3 separate regions of the Homo sapiens genome follow, and all the other regions are linked to region 2. The links come from fine-mapping of genetic effects on gene expression. A gene starts in region 2. Each other region holds a variant in brackets. All regions are shown on one strand. Distances are from middle to middle. Region 1 overlaps LRP8 (LDL receptor related protein 8). Region 2 holds the start of CPT2 (carnitine palmitoyltransferase 2). Region 3 overlaps LRP8 (LDL receptor related protein 8).

Region 1 (5,563 bases), 86 kb before region 2:
CAAGTCCTGGCATTCCAAGAGCCTTGGCTCTTTGAGGGTGGAGGGCTGTTATCAGGCACTGCTGAATCCTTGAGAACCTATAATTAGAGCTGTCTATTTAGGGACACAGCAAATGTCTTATTAATTATAAAGAAAGGAAGCAGACAGATTGTTTAATCATTGTCCTTGCTGAAAGGTTATGCAATTAACTATATAAATATTCATTAAAAGTTCAAGCAGCCGCTTGCTGCACTGGGGTCTGTAGAACCTGGAGGTCCACCCTGGAGGTGGAGCGTACAGCCAAGGGCCCTTTCTGTCACCTGGGCTTTTGTGAGGAGAGTTTGGGGATGGTTCTGGAGCATGCAGGATTTGATGGAAGGGCAAGGCTCTAGTCATAGGAACCCAGGCTCGGTCTCTCGCCTGCTGTGCATCTTTGGGCTAGTTACTTGGTCTCTCTGAGCCTCAGTTTCCTCATCTATAAAATGGAGTGCTTACGTGCAGGACTGCTGCCCTGCTGTAGTGCAGTAAGTGGCCCAGGTATGTAGTAAGTAAGTGGCCCAGGTATGTAGTAAGTAAGTGGCCCGGGTATGTAGTAAGTAAGTGGCCCGGGTATGTAGTAGGTAAGTGGCCCGGGTATGTAGTAGGTAAGTAAGCGGCCCGGGTATGTAGTAGGTAAGTAAGCGGCCCGGGTATGTAGTAGGTAAGTAAGCGGCCCGGGTATGTAGTAGGTAAGTAAGCGGCCCGGGTATGTAGTAGGTAAGTAAGCGGCCCGGGTATGTAGTAGGTAAGTAAGCGGCCCGGGTATGTAGTAGGTAAGTAAGCGGCCCGGGTATGTAGTAGGTAAGTAAGCGGCCCGGGTATGTAGTAGGTAAGTAAGCGGCCCGGGTATGTAGTAGGTAAGTAAGCGGCCCGGGTATGTAGTAGGTAAGTAAGCGGCCCGGGTATGTAGTAGGTAAGTAAGCGGCCCGGGTATGTAGTAGGTAAGTAAGCGGCCCGGGTATGTAGTAGGTAAGTAAGCGGCCCGGGTATGTAGTAGGTAAGTAAGCGGCCCGGGTATGTAGTAGGTAAGTAAGCGGCCCGGGTATGTAGTAGGTAAGGCCCGGGTATGTAGTAAGTAAGTGGCCCGGGTATGTAGTAAGTAAGTAAGTGGCCCGGGTATGTAGTAAGTAAGTGGCCCGGGTATGTAGTAAGTAAGTGGCCCGGGTATGTAGTAAGTAAGTAAGTGGCCCGGGTATGTAGTAAGTAAGTGGCCCGGGTATGTAGTAAGTAAGTGGCCCGGGTATGTAGTAAGTAAGTAAGTGGCCCGGGTATGTAGTAAGTAAGTGGCCCGGGTATGTAGTAAGTAAGTAAGTGGCCCGGGTATGTAGTAAGTAAGTGGCCCGGGTATGTAGTAAGTAAGTGGCCCGGGTATGTAGTAAGTAAGTGGCCCGGGTATGCCACTTATGTGATGACCTTTGTGAATGGCACCCCCGGAATTTGCACTGGCAGCCCGCAAGGCCTGCTTACCTTACAACAGACATTTGTTGCTCACAGTTCTGGAGGGTAGGAAGTCCAAGATCAAGGCACCGGCAGTTTCCGTGTCTGGTGAGGGCCCGTTCCTCATAGACTGCACCTCCTTGCTTCATCCTCACGTGGTGGAAGGGGCAAGGAGGCTCCCCCTGACCTCTTTTGTAAGAGTACTGATCTCATTAAAGAGAGCTGTACTGTTATGGCTTAATCACCTCCTAAAGGCCTCACCTCTTAATGCTATCACATTGAGGATTAAGTTCCAACATGGATTTTCAGGGGATACCAACGTTCAGACCATGGCAGAATGAAATGAAAAAATATAAAATTTTCAGCACAGAGCAGCCTGACACAACTTAGGTGTTCAAAAACTGGGACTCCCCTCCCCCTCCCTTGAGAGGTTCTGTTTCCTGAGGCCTGGCTTAGGGATAAGTAGTTGCTTTGACCTTCCATCCCATTGCTCTCTTAGGGGCTTGCAAGTGTATGGAACATCTGTATCACTTTTATCGTAGTGAATTGAAAAGAGATGAAACATCCCTTGTCTTCTATGCTTGCAGAATGTTAACCAACCCAGGGGTTCCCAAATAGAGGTGCATGGGAATCCCCTGGGTTTTGGTGGGGAGTTACTAAAATGCAGATCCCTAGGCTCTGCCCTAGAAGTCTAGATTCAGTCAGTATGAGCTGAGGCTCAGGAACCTGCACTTTGAGTAGCTCCCTCACCCCCCACCCTTTGATGAGAGGACCCCAGCAAAGCACTGGTCAGCTTCAGCTTCCTGTGTTCCAGTGGGGCCCAGAGGGGAGGTGCTTACCTGGGGTCCTGCAGTGTTGGTGATAGAGGTACCCTGGAAGGACCCCATCTCCCAACTCCCAGTTTCCCTTCACCACCCTGCACTGCAGCCCCAAGGTGGCCTTATATAAAAGGCCTTTGAGGGTTAGTACTTTCCAGAGCTCAACCTGACAGTTATTTGCTCATCCATCCCACAAGTCTGCCAATCCTCGAGCAAGGGAAATTTCTGTGAAATGAATACCAGGAATCCTGTATTCCCAAGGGATTGCCCTGTACTCATGAAATGCATTCCTAGGGATAACGTTGGGGACCTCACTTTCAGGGGCCTAAGATGCTCTTCTCCCATGGCAGTAGTGGTGTCCAGGGACCTTGACTCAGATACCTGCTCCCCTCCCCAACTCATCTGTGCCCTTTTCTGTATCCCTTGTGGTCTCTCATCCCAGCTATAGAAATGGGAAGAGGAGAAACTGGTCTGAGATCAGAGAGCAAAATGGAGGGCGAAGCATGAGTAGCCCACTGCCTCCGGGGAGAAATGGATTGTGCTGAGTCTCCGGCATCAGACACAGCTGACTTTCAGTCAATCCTAACACTGCTCTTTATCAGCTCTGTGACCAGAACTTAGTGCCTACCACCATGTTTGTCACACAGCAGTGCTCAAATACTCAGTGAATAAGCAAAATTCAGAGTCATCTGGTATGTGTGGATAATCATAGTAGGTAACATTTAGTGAGCACTGGGCTGGGTGTTCTTCTAGGTGCTTGCTTTACAGACATTAACTTAGTCATCATAACAATCCTATGAGAGATAGTATTATCCCCACTTTATTGGCACAGAGATAAGGATTGTTGGCCAAGGTCACATAGTCAGTGAGTGATTGAAGTAGGATTTGAACCCAGGCAGCCAGGCTCCAGAGCCCATGTTCTCCGCCTCTATGCTGGAGGCCAGCACATAATCCTCTCACCCTGCTGGCTTATTGTGAAAATTAGATGGAAGTGTCTAGCACCATGCCTGGCACATCCTAGAGACCACGGAGGTCGGGCCTCCTGCACACCCTGGAAGGCTGAAGGGAGCCAACCACGGAGGTCTGAGATGCATCTGC[C/T]TTGGCTGAGCCTGTCACATGGGTCCAGCAGAAACTCATGATAAGAGCTGTCCCCAGCCTTGAATAGGGTTCTCATTCTTCCTTCCAAATTGAGATTCAACCCTGGGGCTTCAGGCCCCTGATTGAGTCAGCCTCTGATTGCGGCTGCAGTAATTATAGCTATGCAGTCCCGCTGGGCCCTGCCATGCAGCAGCTGCTCTCAGCAGCAGGATCAGCACCATCACTCGGGGAGGGGGCTTAGAGGCGGGCCGATTGGAGCCGTTGGGGCCTTGGTGAGCCCTCCAAATTTACAGGTTCCAATCATGGAGTCACTGATCTGGAAGGCAAACTGAGGCCCAGCTGGGGCATATCTCACCTAAGGGCACACAGCTGGGAAATGGCAGAGAAGAGTGCAGGGCATGGTGGCTCCATGTTGCCAGAACTTAAAGTGGAGGTTTGGAGGGATGGGAGGTGTGGCCAGGAGGGGCAGGCAGAAGTCAATGGATCAAAGGGACTTGAGGGCCAGGGACCAGGGGGCCATGAAAGATGTTATGTAGAGAAGGGTCAGATTTAGGATTTGAAAATTCCTGGCACAGACAGAGGCTTCTTCTCAGCTGATGAAACTGAGACATGGGCCAGAAGAGCCCTGATGGACTCCTAGGGCCTTGGACCAGATGGCTGGAACAGGGTGGTAGGACTGGTTGGCACCATGCCCTGTGTCCCCCTTGGCTAAGCTATGCATGGACGTCTGTCTCCACAGCCAAGCAGGTGTGTCCTGCAGAGAAGCTGAGCTGTGGACCCACCAGCCACAAGTGTGTACCTGCCTCGTGGCGCTGCGACGGGGAGAAGGACTGCGAGGGTGGAGCGGATGAGGCCGGCTGTGCTACCTGTGAGTCTGGGGTCAGATCTCCAGGGTCTGCCAAGCATGGTCAGGCAGCCTCAGGGAGTGGCAGCCACTTCTGGGGAGGGGGCCCAGTTCCCCGTGGGGCTTGGTGGTGGAGAGGAAAGGATAACGATCAGGACACTAGTAATGGCTAGATTCTATGGAGACATGGTCTTCTTTCATCTTCACAAGCACCTCATGAGCAGCCATTATCATCCCCATTTTATAGGTGAGGAAACTGAGGCTCAGACAAGGGAGGAAAAGTACCCAAGGCTGAGTGATGAAACCAAGATTCAGATTCAGGACTGGACAGCAAAGCCCATGAGCTTTTGTTACCATGTCTGACATCTGCTCATCCATCCCACAAGTCTGCCAATCTTGGAGCAAGGGCAGGGGGACCAGGGAGGGTGCTGCGTGGAGAAATGGCGGTGGTCTGAGCCAGGGCGCCAGCAATGCTGGGGGGAGGGGGACGGATTCCTGAGGTGTCAAGGACGACTGTTGCTGAAATCTCAGATTCAAGCACAGACGTCACAGGGCAGAGAAGACATTCTCAGCAGCCTCGGCAGGGACAGATGGAAGTGGTCACTGGGACAGTTCCACATCACTGAGCTTCAAACACAGGATTATCTCCTTCCCAGGGAGCAGGCCAGCAGGGCCTGGGCCATTGGGGAGCATGGCCAGGCCTCACTTTTTCAATTCGAGGGGCACCTACTGTGTGCCAGGCCTGAAGCCAGGCTCTGAAAGGGACAGTGAGGTGAATCCTACACAGTCTTCCCTCTGGGAACACATGATTAGTGGGGGAGACAGACTGGCTGTCGCTACTAGGCTGTGCGGCTGGGCTGAAATACGGGCGGTCACCCTGGAGGGCTTGCCAGGCACTTGCCCATCACTGCTGCCTACTCCCCTCTGCCAGCCTCTATATTTGCATCCTATCCATCTTTCCTGGCCCAGGGAAAATGCCATCTCCTCCAGAGGTGTCTGAGTCGTCACACTTTAAGATTCTAAGTCTGGAATTTGATGTGTCTGAAGCAGGAAGCATCTGGGTATGGAGGGAGATCCTGGCTGGGAACAGCAGTTTCAAAGTCCCAGTGATGGCACTGGCTCACTTCCTCAGCTGTGATAATTTTGCTGGGACTCACTGGCCAATGAGAATCCTCTTTCCTCTTTACCAAGCCCCATAATCAGATGATTCCTCCAATATGAAGGCCGCTACTGCAAGGGATGGGAGTCTCTCCAACTAGGGCATGTTGGAATAGGAACATTCCCCATTAATTATGGGAGAGAGAGGTGTCAGAAGGTCTTACTGGGCTTCTATGCTATAGCTTCCACC
Region 2 (5,000 bases):
GATGGGGTTGGAATAAATAATCTTGAATATTCTTTCCAGCTTTCCAATTCTAAAGTGCAGAAAATCCCTCTGATCTTAAACCTGGGTGGGGCCCAGGCCTGCCTGAAAGTCAGTGACCATCTGACTCTGAACTTGGCAAGTGAAGACAGGTTCTGTCAGTCCTCACCTTTCACCCATATACTGGCTCAGCTCATACACACAGGTTGACAGGGTGGAAGCATGTACCAGGCTTATGCCACAGGCACAAAGCCCCTTTTTCTTCCTCCCTCCTGCCACGTGTAGATAATCTCATTTTCATGTCTTAGATGTTTGCACAAAATGTAATTTCACAAGAATCACTCGATCCTCCTGAGAGGGTGAGGGTATGTAGTGATGACGTTGGGTTAAGTGGTCCCAGATGCAGAGAAAAACAACCCAGCAGCTCGGGTGAGGCCTGTGACACAATGTTCCACACATGGGGAAGAAGCCTGGCCTCTAGCTCTTGGAGTGTGGGGAATCCCTGAGGGCAGTTTGGTGAGAAATAAGGTGAGAAGGGTCTTTGAGACAAATTTTGAACTTGGCTCCAGGAACTGAGTTACTCACTCAGTAAGTTAGAAGTTAGTTTAGGTTTGGTTTAGAGGGTGAAGAAAATTTCTAATATTGAAGAAGGAGATCTGGCAACTCAGACGAAAGCGGAGTTCGAAGGCTGGAAGAACTGGAAGCTGGATTTAAGAAAGTACTGGGGGAGGGAAGGGGAAGAGGATTTACTAGGGCTCTTTTCAGAGGGGAAGTCGATTCTGGGTGAAGTGTTTCGAAGGCAGGGTAGCCAGTGGTGAGGAGGAGAAGAGAAATTTGGGTGGACCCTGGATCTGAGTATGATGGAGTGTGGATGGGGTACTGAGGGTGGTGTCTAGAATTCTGTGAGGGTGAGCTGCACTTACAAGGGGTACTGTGGGTGAGGAAGGATATTTTGAGGGGAGGAACCTGTTGAGGAGGGCTTGGAGAGAGTGAAAGGTTTCCGGGTGAACACTGGATTTAGGAGATTAAAGATTTAAAAACATGGGGGAGGGTCAGTTGAGGACAAGGGTGAACACTTCAGGGCTGTGCTTGTGGGGGCTCATGGGGGGTGAAAGAACAGAGTACTGGAGAAATGGGAGGTGGGGCTGAGGGTCCTGAGTGACAGGGGTGAAGGCGGTGCTGGGAGAAGTTAAGGAATGGTAACCATGATGTATTAGGAATCAGCCTACCCATATTCCGGGTAGGAATGTGAGGCAGTCATTAAAGTACTTCAGGAGACACCATAGTCGAGGGATTACAGCGGCGCTGGAAATATGCAGGTCTGGCATTTTTCAGGGAGAAGAGGACTCAGGATAGCTGGCTGGAAGTTAGGTTAAAGGAGAGGGAATCTGAGAAGCGTTCAAGATGGAGAATCTGAGATAGCATCGAGGGGTTCTGGAAGAGAATTTGAGGGTTCTGAGGTTCCTGTGCTAGGAGATTGTGAAAAGTCCCAAGACTTCCAGATTAGGGGCTGTGGCAGCCTCCATGGTAGGGGCTTGGGGGCGGAAACGGGTTCACTAGAGGAGTCATGAGTGACTGCAGTCAGGTTGGGGCCGATCCTGGGACGGCGGCGGGCGGCGGGGACCCGGAGGCCAGGCTCACCTGGGCAGGCTGTCCTGGTAGTGCATGGTGGGCACGATGCTGCGCTGCAGGTACTGGCCGGGCCCGGAGCCGGCGCTGAGGGGCCGACTGGGGGCTCCCGGACCAACCGCGGGGCCCCGGGGCCAGGCGCGCAGCAGCAGGCGGGGCACCATCGTCCCGGGAGCCTGCGGCGGCGAGAACGCGGCAAGTGGGGAGTTCTGGAGTCTAAACACAAGGCCGCCGCCGCCGTTAGCGCCCAAGACACTGCGTCAGGACTCCTGAGGCACTTCTCCGCCCGCAGGCCACTTCCGGCCCCTGTAAGGCCATCGGCTCCGCCCCGGACTGGCTCCTTCCGGGCAGGGGCCGCTCACTGACAGGCCCCGCCCACTAGTAGGCCCCGCCCGGAAGGGGGCCCCAGCCTCCGCGCTGCTCGTCTCCCTTCCCTTCCCTAGGAGGCGGGAAACCGAGCGCCGCAGCCGCTCCTTCCCCTTTTTTGGAGCAAGACAGAAACTGGAGTTGGAAAAAAAAAAGAAAAGCTAAGAAACGTGATTGGAATCTGATAACCCAAAATTTGATCCAGGCTCCATCCTTGCGAGACTGTGGACTAAATTTTAAACCTCTATTTCCTCACCTAAGAAGTAGATAGATCGTAATGATTCAAAGTACCTCCCAAAATTCTAGATATGAGATAAAGATAACATGTTATGCACAGTGCATGGTGCTTAATAGGAAAGCAGTAAACGGTAACGGATGTTACTGTTGTTAGTAATCCGTGCTGAAGGTCATTGACATATAATGACCCTGAACCCTGCACAGCTACTGCCCTGCCAGCTCACCTGAGTGGATGGATATTAGAAAGGATTTGTGCAGGAGTTGGAAACCTGGAGTTTCCCGCTGGCCACCACTTCAGTGCAGAAAGCCCCTTCCGAGCGGAATCCCCTCTGCCTGAACATCCATTCTTGGCTTGAGCATTTCCAAAAACAAGAAGCTCACTGCTAAGAGGAAAGAAACCCTTGTCCTCCGGCTCTAGGAAGTCTTCCGTGTTCAGTCTATTGGAAGAGGCTTCCTGTCACCACAGACCACCTCCAAGATTCCTTCCAACTCCTGACTCTAAGATTCCGCTACTTGAACATAGATCTATCATCCCTCATCCATCACAAAACAGCTGCAGAACAGCCCACCACGCCCCAATCCCTGATCTTAGAAGTAGCTGCAGGATTAAGTAGGCTCTACTCCCATTTTACAGAAGAAGACAGGGAGTTACCAAAAGACACACAATTATGCTGCCTAGCTTGAGGCACAACAGAATTCCATTTTGGGAACAGAACTGCCCTTTAGCCGTTTGGGGCAGCCAAGTACATTCTGTCTGTTCCATAATTGGCTAAGCAGAGCCAGAAGCTGGAGCACACCAGAAAGAGTACTGGATTGGGAGTCAGGAGACCGGACTTTTAGTTTCAGCTCTTTGTTATCTAGTTAGGTGACCTCGGATTGAACAGGAAGATCACTAACCAGCTCTGGCACTCATTCAGTGGTGATCACAAATGCTTAACCCATTTCCCGTTTAGAAAAAAACAGCGCAGCTTGCTGCCAGCTCTTATTTCTTAGGGCAAATGGGAAATGGCTTAAGAACTAAGCATGAAATTCAGAAACACTGAATATCGAATCCTCCTCTCTTGAGGGGAGAAAAGGCCCAACTGGCCCAACTCCAAAACATCGGTGCCATTTGCCTGTAGTGTATAAGGCCAGAGGGAGAATATAAAACTCTTTCTGAAAATGAGCCATCTCCTCTAAATCCTGATCATTTTCAGAGCCTTGATACCCGAGGCAAATATCGAGATCTGTGTAGTGCTAAGGGGATCAGAGGACCAGGAAGAAATAGTGGGCCCAGTAGAAAAGCAGCGGCTCTATTCTAGAGACAGAGGGCCAAAAGATTGAGCCCATCCAATCTAACAGCCAAAAGAGGGACGTGAACACCTTTGGTGAGTGCATGGCCAATGGGAGCAACTCTAAGCCTTTAGGCTGGTGTCCAAGGCCTTCTGAATTCTGACCCCTACCTACTTCTCCAGCTCCCATCATGTCACCCCAAAATACTCTATGCCAGGGGTGTCCAATCTTTTGACTTCCCTGAGCCACACTGGAAGAAGAATTGTCTTGGGCCACACATAAAATACACTAATACTAATGATAGCTAATAAGCAAAAACAAAACAAAATTGTAAAAATATCTCATATTTTAATAAAGTTTACTAATTTGTGTTGGCCTCATTCAAAGCCATCCTGAGCTGTGGGTTGGACAAGCTTGCTCTATGCTGTAGTAACACTGAACCACTTCTCATTCCCATCCTTTTCCTTACTCTGCGACTTATTTATTTATTTATTTTAGCTGTCTCTGCTGCCTGGAATGTTCTTTCCATGCATCTCTGCCTAGTAAACTCTTACTTGTCCTTCAAACCCTATTTCAAAACTCACCTCTTTGAAGTCTTCCTCAATCCTCATCCTTCTTCCTCACTGCAAGAATGAATCCCTCCCACTGTGATTTTACAGCACTTTTTACATTCATTTACAGTTATGTACATGAAACACAACTGTATTAGGGCTTTTAAAATAATCAGCTATTTAATTACCAATTCATCTCTCACAATAAATTTTGAGGTCTTTGGGCAGGGACCTTGTTTCCACTGTGTGTCCACTGTGTCTAGCACAGGCCTACTGTGGGGAGGTGCTTTGCTTCCTTTTCCTGGGGATGGCCCTGGGGTCTGGATCACATTAAGAATAACCATGAGCTGGTAGTCCAAAAAGTCCATATATTGCTGTGTAAGGGTCAAGAAAGTTCCTCTACTTAGAGAAAGATCCTGAAGAATACATTGTTTCTATTGAACTAATCCCCAGAGTTCTGCTCTGTTTTGAATTAACTATGAAAAAGCAGTACATGATGGCCAGGTTAAAGTCATATTCATCTTCAAAATCAAAGTTCTGAAAAACAATGAACTTTAACTGGCTAGCAGTAGAGTTCACATTTCAACAAAAAAGAGGTCCAGTTGGGTAAGTATGACCAAAGAAAACAAATGTGACCACCCAAATATTCAAAGAAATGTCAGGAACTAGTACCTAGAGTTGGCCTGGCAGTCCCAAGTTCTCAGGTTCTATTGGAGCTTACCTGGACTAAACAGTGCTTGAAATGAGGAAATTCATAGGCAAGACCTTGAAAAGCCCTGCCTATTTAATGGGATTTGTTAAAATGAACTCTAACCCTTTTATAAATATTGAGTATGTGAGAAAGTATTTAAATGCAAAAAAGTGAAACCAGAGTATTAAAAAAATGCTCTCTCTGCCCCATAAAGGAACTTTTAAAACATACCTGTGGACACATTAGATATTGTAACT
Region 3 (5,596 bases), 47 kb before region 2:
ATAAAGATAAATTTATTTTCACACAGTCCACAAGGGGTATATCTTGTAGTTTTCAGAAAAGCCTTTGGAAATCTGGATCAGAAAATAGATACCATGGTTTGTGCAATTATGTAGTAAAAAAGGCAAATCTTTTCACCTCTGGCTATTCCTGAGACCCCAGGAAGTCAGGAAAAGCCTTTCAGCTCACCCATGGCTGCTGTGACTCCTACCAGGGCTTTCTTGGCTTTGGCGAAGGTCAGTGTACAGACATTCCATGGTACCAGAGTGCTCAGAAACTCAAGATAGGATATGCCTCACCCTCAGCTACTCCTTGTTTTAAAGTTCAGCTCTTTGAGTAACTTCTTCAATTTCTTTCAGGACACTTGGGTTGAATTCAGTAAGTTTCCTCTGAAGCACCCTGAAGGGTGCCATCCTTACAGAGCTAAGTGGAGACGTTTCCAGATCAGCCCAAGTTTACTATAGAGACTGGCCCAGGCACTGAATGTCTAGGACATGCTGTGGATGAAGATAAAGATGGTGGAATAGGTTTTATCACATCTCTTATTTCTCTTTTCCCCTTACTCTCTACCATTTCCTTTATGTGGGGAAACATTTTAAGGTAATAAATAGGTTACTTACCATCATATGTTCATATAGATGAAACTAATTTTTGGCTTAAGTCAGAACAACTGGCCAAAATTGAAGTCATATTTGAGGGGGGAAATGGCATACGCAATATTATATTATATTGGATATTTATGTTCACACAGGAATTTGGTTTACTGCTTTGTAAATAAAAGGAAAAACTCCGGGTATATGTATAGATGTTCTTCATTATAGACATCTTCTTTGCTTTTCTTGGCCTTGGGGGAGGAAGGGAGAAGTGCTCTTTTCTACTTGTGGGGTCTCCCATTGGAAACATAATCCTATAGTCCCAGAAGGATTCAGTCCCCAGTGGCTTTCCCATCCAAAGAGAAAGAGTTTGAGTTTCTTAACTCTGCTGTTCTGCCACTTACTCCCACTAGACAACCAGGGACAAGGTGCAACATGGAAGTGTTTGACTTAAGTAGGAGCAGAGGAGCTGCATCTAATCTCATCATACCTGGAACTTGACACACTTAAGCAAATGCCTTCCCATCCCTACCTGCCAGATGCCCCCAACTCAATGAAGTTGGATGTCTCACCAGCTTGATACCCTTTGAATTTTCAGTCAGACATTCTGGAGTTCTAGCATCCTGTACCTAGGACCTTCCTCTGTGTCACTCTTGGCCTCCTAAACTCTAAGAAAATAACTATATTCTGGAGCTTGGGCAGTGTGTTTTGCATAATCCAGCAATCTCCTCATGACATGCATGTGTTGATAGTCCTGAAACATTCATTGAGAGGGTAAATGCAGTTGACCTAGAATGACCAATACCAAACAGAATTTTAAGAACAGGTGGCCAACTCCTATGGAGCTTACTCACATATTACTATTCTTTTAAGAACGGAAAGTAAAATTATTTTTGACTGAAGAAAAATGATGACAGTGAAAAACATGGAAATGTACTCAAAACAAGTGACTTTTTCTGTAACCTTCCAAAGAAACTGAATTTTCCAAGGAATTAAATGATAACAGTGGCTAAGGCATAGTTTCTAAACTTTCAGTAAGATCCTGGCATTCACAGAAAAAAATGATGAATGGGGTCTGGACATACAGCCTGAGATCTCAAAATGACAATGAAATTCACAACTTTTTCTCAGAGACATTCATGTTTCCTGCATATGCTACAACTGCAGTTTGAAAGAGGCAGCAATGGGAGCAACCCTTTACAAGAAACAAATTGTGATATATTCATGTGTTGGACGGCAGTAAATAAGATGAAACCTGAGGAGTCAGATCCACCTTCCCCCATTCATAGAGGCTTTTCAGCCTCATTTTGAGGTACAGTTACATATCTTTTGCCTTTTGCCCCCGTGCATAGCTATCTACAGCCAATCACAGATCACAGAGTCACTGGACTATAGAGCTGGAAGGAAGCTCAGAGACAATGCCAAGGGGGCAGAAAATTTATCAGAAGCCAGTCCCAGTGCGTTTCCTCCATTTCCTTCTGCAGGAAGACTATTTTGGGCTGCCTGAACATTGTATCAAACCTGCTACCTATACTATGGTCTACCTTTCCTCCAGTGGAATTACAAAGGCACTAACTGAAATGCCTTCTAGAAACAGAGAAAACGAAACTGTACTTATTTACTCTTGATACACAGATTATTTATAAAACAGATTGAAGTAACCTGTTAACTGGCAAAAAGAGAATGAGATCGGATTTAAATGTATGGCAGTAAGTCCTATTGATCCCTCCAGTTATCTCAGTATGACTGCAGTATATTCATTCACTAAAACCACTCACTAGATACCAACTACACACCTGGCACTGCAGATGTAAAGGTCAGTCACACATGTTCTGACTTTACAGAGTTCACAGTAGCAGTGGAGGATGATATATGTGGAAACAAAAAAGGCATTGATTCTATTCAGAGCACTGTTAGGGCTCAAAGGAGAGAGGGGTCTTTCCACCTAAGAAATGAGGAATAGGGTCATCATAGAAGTGACCTTAAGTCTTAAAAATTAAGAAGGGGATTCCAAGCTGCTTCAGACAGAGACACATCGAGCTAAAACACAGAGGTATGAAAGAGCACAGGGACTTTAGGAATTGCACAGTTCATTCTAACAGGAACAAAAGGCTCAAGGGGGGCAAGAAATGAGGCTGTATGGAAAGAGATTCAATGTAAGCACTTTATAAAATAGATTAATTTCTGATTCAATGAAGCATTTCTTGATCATTGTGTACAAGGCACTACATGCATCATGGAAAATTCATTAGGATGCATTGCCAGCACTTTGCAGAACTGATATTATTCAGCCTCAAGCTTTCCAGTGGCCAAAGGGAAATGCTGACTGCTTTTCATATATTTGAGTCAAAGATTTTTTATATGGTCAATGAAGACTAATATAAGGGCAGTGGGATTTTCACAGATGCATGCCATGTTGTCGAGAGCCTCTTAGATTTTCTCAACTGTGAGAAAGAAAAACGAAAATGTTGAAGACGTTGAGTCTGGAGAGGGGATACTAATCACTGTCCAGTTGGGCACTGGTGGGAATGGGGAAATGGCACAGGAATGCAAGCCTCTCCACCCTACC[C/A]CCCGAACTCCAGCCATACACTCATCGTTTCACAAAATATAAATGAGTTAGCATTAAATGTTTCAGAGTAAATAATTCCTTTTCCCGAAATGCATGAAGATAGAGTAACAGACTTCTCACACTGTATTTTTAGGGTATGGAGAATTTAGAAGGTTAAAGAATTACTGCTTCAATTTTTCAGTTAAAAAAAAATCAGGAAGCTCTGTTCATTCAGGCTATGCACCATGTGCACAGTCAAGAATTAGCAGAAACCCTCTGCATTTACAAACACTTTGTGCTATAAAAAAGTAATTTTTAAAAAGCCACGTGTGTGTGTGTGTATATATATATATATATATATATTTAAAGCCAAGGTTTTGATACTTTTTTACAAAAACTACAAGAGAAAACAAATATACCTGTCCAAACCATATACTTTTAAAAGAGCATTTTTTTTTCCATACAAGCTGTTGTTAATTTGGGGGTAAAGTGCTGATTTGCAAACTTCATCAAATTGTTCCCAAGTGGATTCTCCTTGTTTGTCTCCCCCTACCAACCCCAAAGTTACCATATTTGATGTAAGAATCAGGCATGTTAGAATGTTGTGTCACACTAACTGATTCTGCTCTTTTTGTCTTGTCATTCAAGTTCCGTTAGCTTCTGTACGCGGTGCCCTTTGCAGTCTGGTGTCTCTTCCAGAGGCGAGGGGGCTGAGGATGGGGTGCTGCATCTCACTAGCTATACTGGCATCATCTTGGTAAACTGAAAACCAAATGTGGACATTTGTAAAATCAGTGCACTGTTTCTAGAGAGAGATTAAATTCATTTAAAAAAAATCTTTTAAGTTTTGTTTCATTGTAATACTTTAATGAGGGGGAGTGAACTATTACTGAGTCCCTAATGTGTACCAGTATTCTATATAAATTATCCCAATCTTTGTCAACAATTCGGTGAGATAAATACTATCAATACTATCCACTCCCATTTTATAGATGAGAAAATGGGCAAAGTAACTGCCCAAAGTCACAAGGTTATTTTTAGTGCCCCCAAAGAGCAATTGTACATGTAGCATTCTCTGCCTAAATTTTCCTTCTCTGCCTCCACATGACTAACTCCTATTTGTCCTTGAGTACTCCACTTAGGTAATGCCTCCTCCAGGAAGCCTTCCCTTTTCTCTAAGACTAGGTTAGATAACTCACCTCTGTACTTCGATAACAATTTTTGCCTACTTGCATCCCAATACTTCTGCCTTACCATTCATTCCCATGCCATTGGGGTTGCTTTTGCCAAGGTCATCCAGGACCTCCTCGATTATAAATCTGGTAAACATTTTCAGTCTTGCTCTTCCTTGACCTGGAAGCAGTAGTTAACACTGTTAGCCACTCTTTTCTTGGCATATTCTTATTTTGGCTTCCATGATAACATTTCATGTTTTTTCTCCTATCTCTCTGGCCACATCTTAGTATCCTTTGCCTACCCCTTAAATTATGGTATTCCATCTCAAATCCATCCACTTTTCTATCTCCATTACTTTTTTTTTTTTTTTTTTTTAAGAGACAGGGTCGTACTCTGTTACCCAGGCTGGAGTACAGTGGTAGGATCATAGCTCATTGCAACCTCCGCCTCCTGGGCTCAAGCAATTCTCCTGTCTCAGCCTCCCGAGTAGCTGGGGCTACAGGTGCACGCCACCCTGCCCAGCTAATAGATTACTTAAACTACTTATCTGAATGTCATACTTCTAGTCTTTTCATTTTCCAATCTAACCTACAAGACTGCAGCCAAAGTGTCTTTCTAAAGTACCATAGATGTATCACCACCACTTCTTTCCACTTTCCTGCTTAAAGCTCTTCAACTGCTTTGCTGGCACAAAAATCCAATATTCTTGGGTTTGCCCAAACTCTTTTAATATGGCTTATAAAACCCTTCATGATTTGGCTTCTGCCCTGTCTCCAGCTTCATCACTCACTACTCTATATTCTAATCACACAGTTCTGGGCCTCCGTCTGGAACATTTCCTTCAGGAACATTTCCCTAAGGACCCTGCACTGGATTAGGAGTCACCTCATGTGCTTCCATAGTCCTCTGTGCTTCCTTTATTGGTAATCTTATCCTTACATTGTAATTGCTTGTATGCTCCTTAACTGCCTCCTCTGCAAGCTCTGTGAACAACTGTCTTGCTCAACATTGTATCCTCTCTGCACATGACACTCAGTGGATGCTCAAATAAATGATGCTGAATGCAGGCACTGCAGACACACAGACCATGCTCTTTCAGTTACACCATGTCTCATATCCAGAAACCTGGATTACTTCACAGCCTGACTGGAGTTGTGTGTCCTTTAAATTTCTCAACACTTTTGTTATTTGCCACATCTGAAGATCCCCAGATTCACTTATGATTTTTATAATTTTACTCCTGGAAAATAACCTTGTAGCAATTGCTTAATCCCTCTACAT

Evidence for each region. PIP is the estimated chance that this variant, and not a neighbour inherited with it, causes the effect. A credible set is the group of variants that fine-mapping cannot tell apart.
Region 1: its variant is the best candidate, but not a certain one, in a credible set for the expression of CPT2 in whole blood (INTERVAL, PIP 0.61).
Region 3: its variant is the best candidate, but not a certain one, in a credible set for the expression of CPT2 in whole blood (TOPMed, PIP 0.71).

The regions. Positions count from the first base shown.
Region 1 is chr1:53,279,263-53,284,825 of GRCh38, reverse strand. It overlaps LRP8 (LDL receptor related protein 8), which reads left to right. Exons shown (of 19, transcript NM_004631.5): 4 at 4,111-4,239. Among named protein-coding and RNA genes, the nearest start is that of MAGOH-DT, 43 kb to the right of the region's middle. The variant C/T (reference allele first, on the strand shown) is at 3,372.
Region 2 is chr1:53,193,734-53,198,733 of GRCh38, reverse strand. CPT2 (carnitine palmitoyltransferase 2) reads right to left here and starts at 1,910. Exons shown (of 5, transcript NM_000098.3): 1 at 1,639-1,910. The coding sequence starts at 1,790. RefSeq lists a silencer at 1,567-1,926.
Region 3 is chr1:53,240,743-53,246,338 of GRCh38, reverse strand. It overlaps LRP8 (LDL receptor related protein 8), which reads left to right. Exons shown (of 19, transcript NM_004631.5): 19 at 1-3,975. MAGOH-DT (MAGOH divergent transcript) reads right to left here. Exons shown (of 3, transcript NR_038953.1): 2 at 4,394-4,492; 3 at 3,556-3,901. Among named protein-coding and RNA genes, the nearest start is that of MAGOH-DT, 4.9 kb to the right of the region's middle. The variant C/A (reference allele first, on the strand shown) is at 3,161.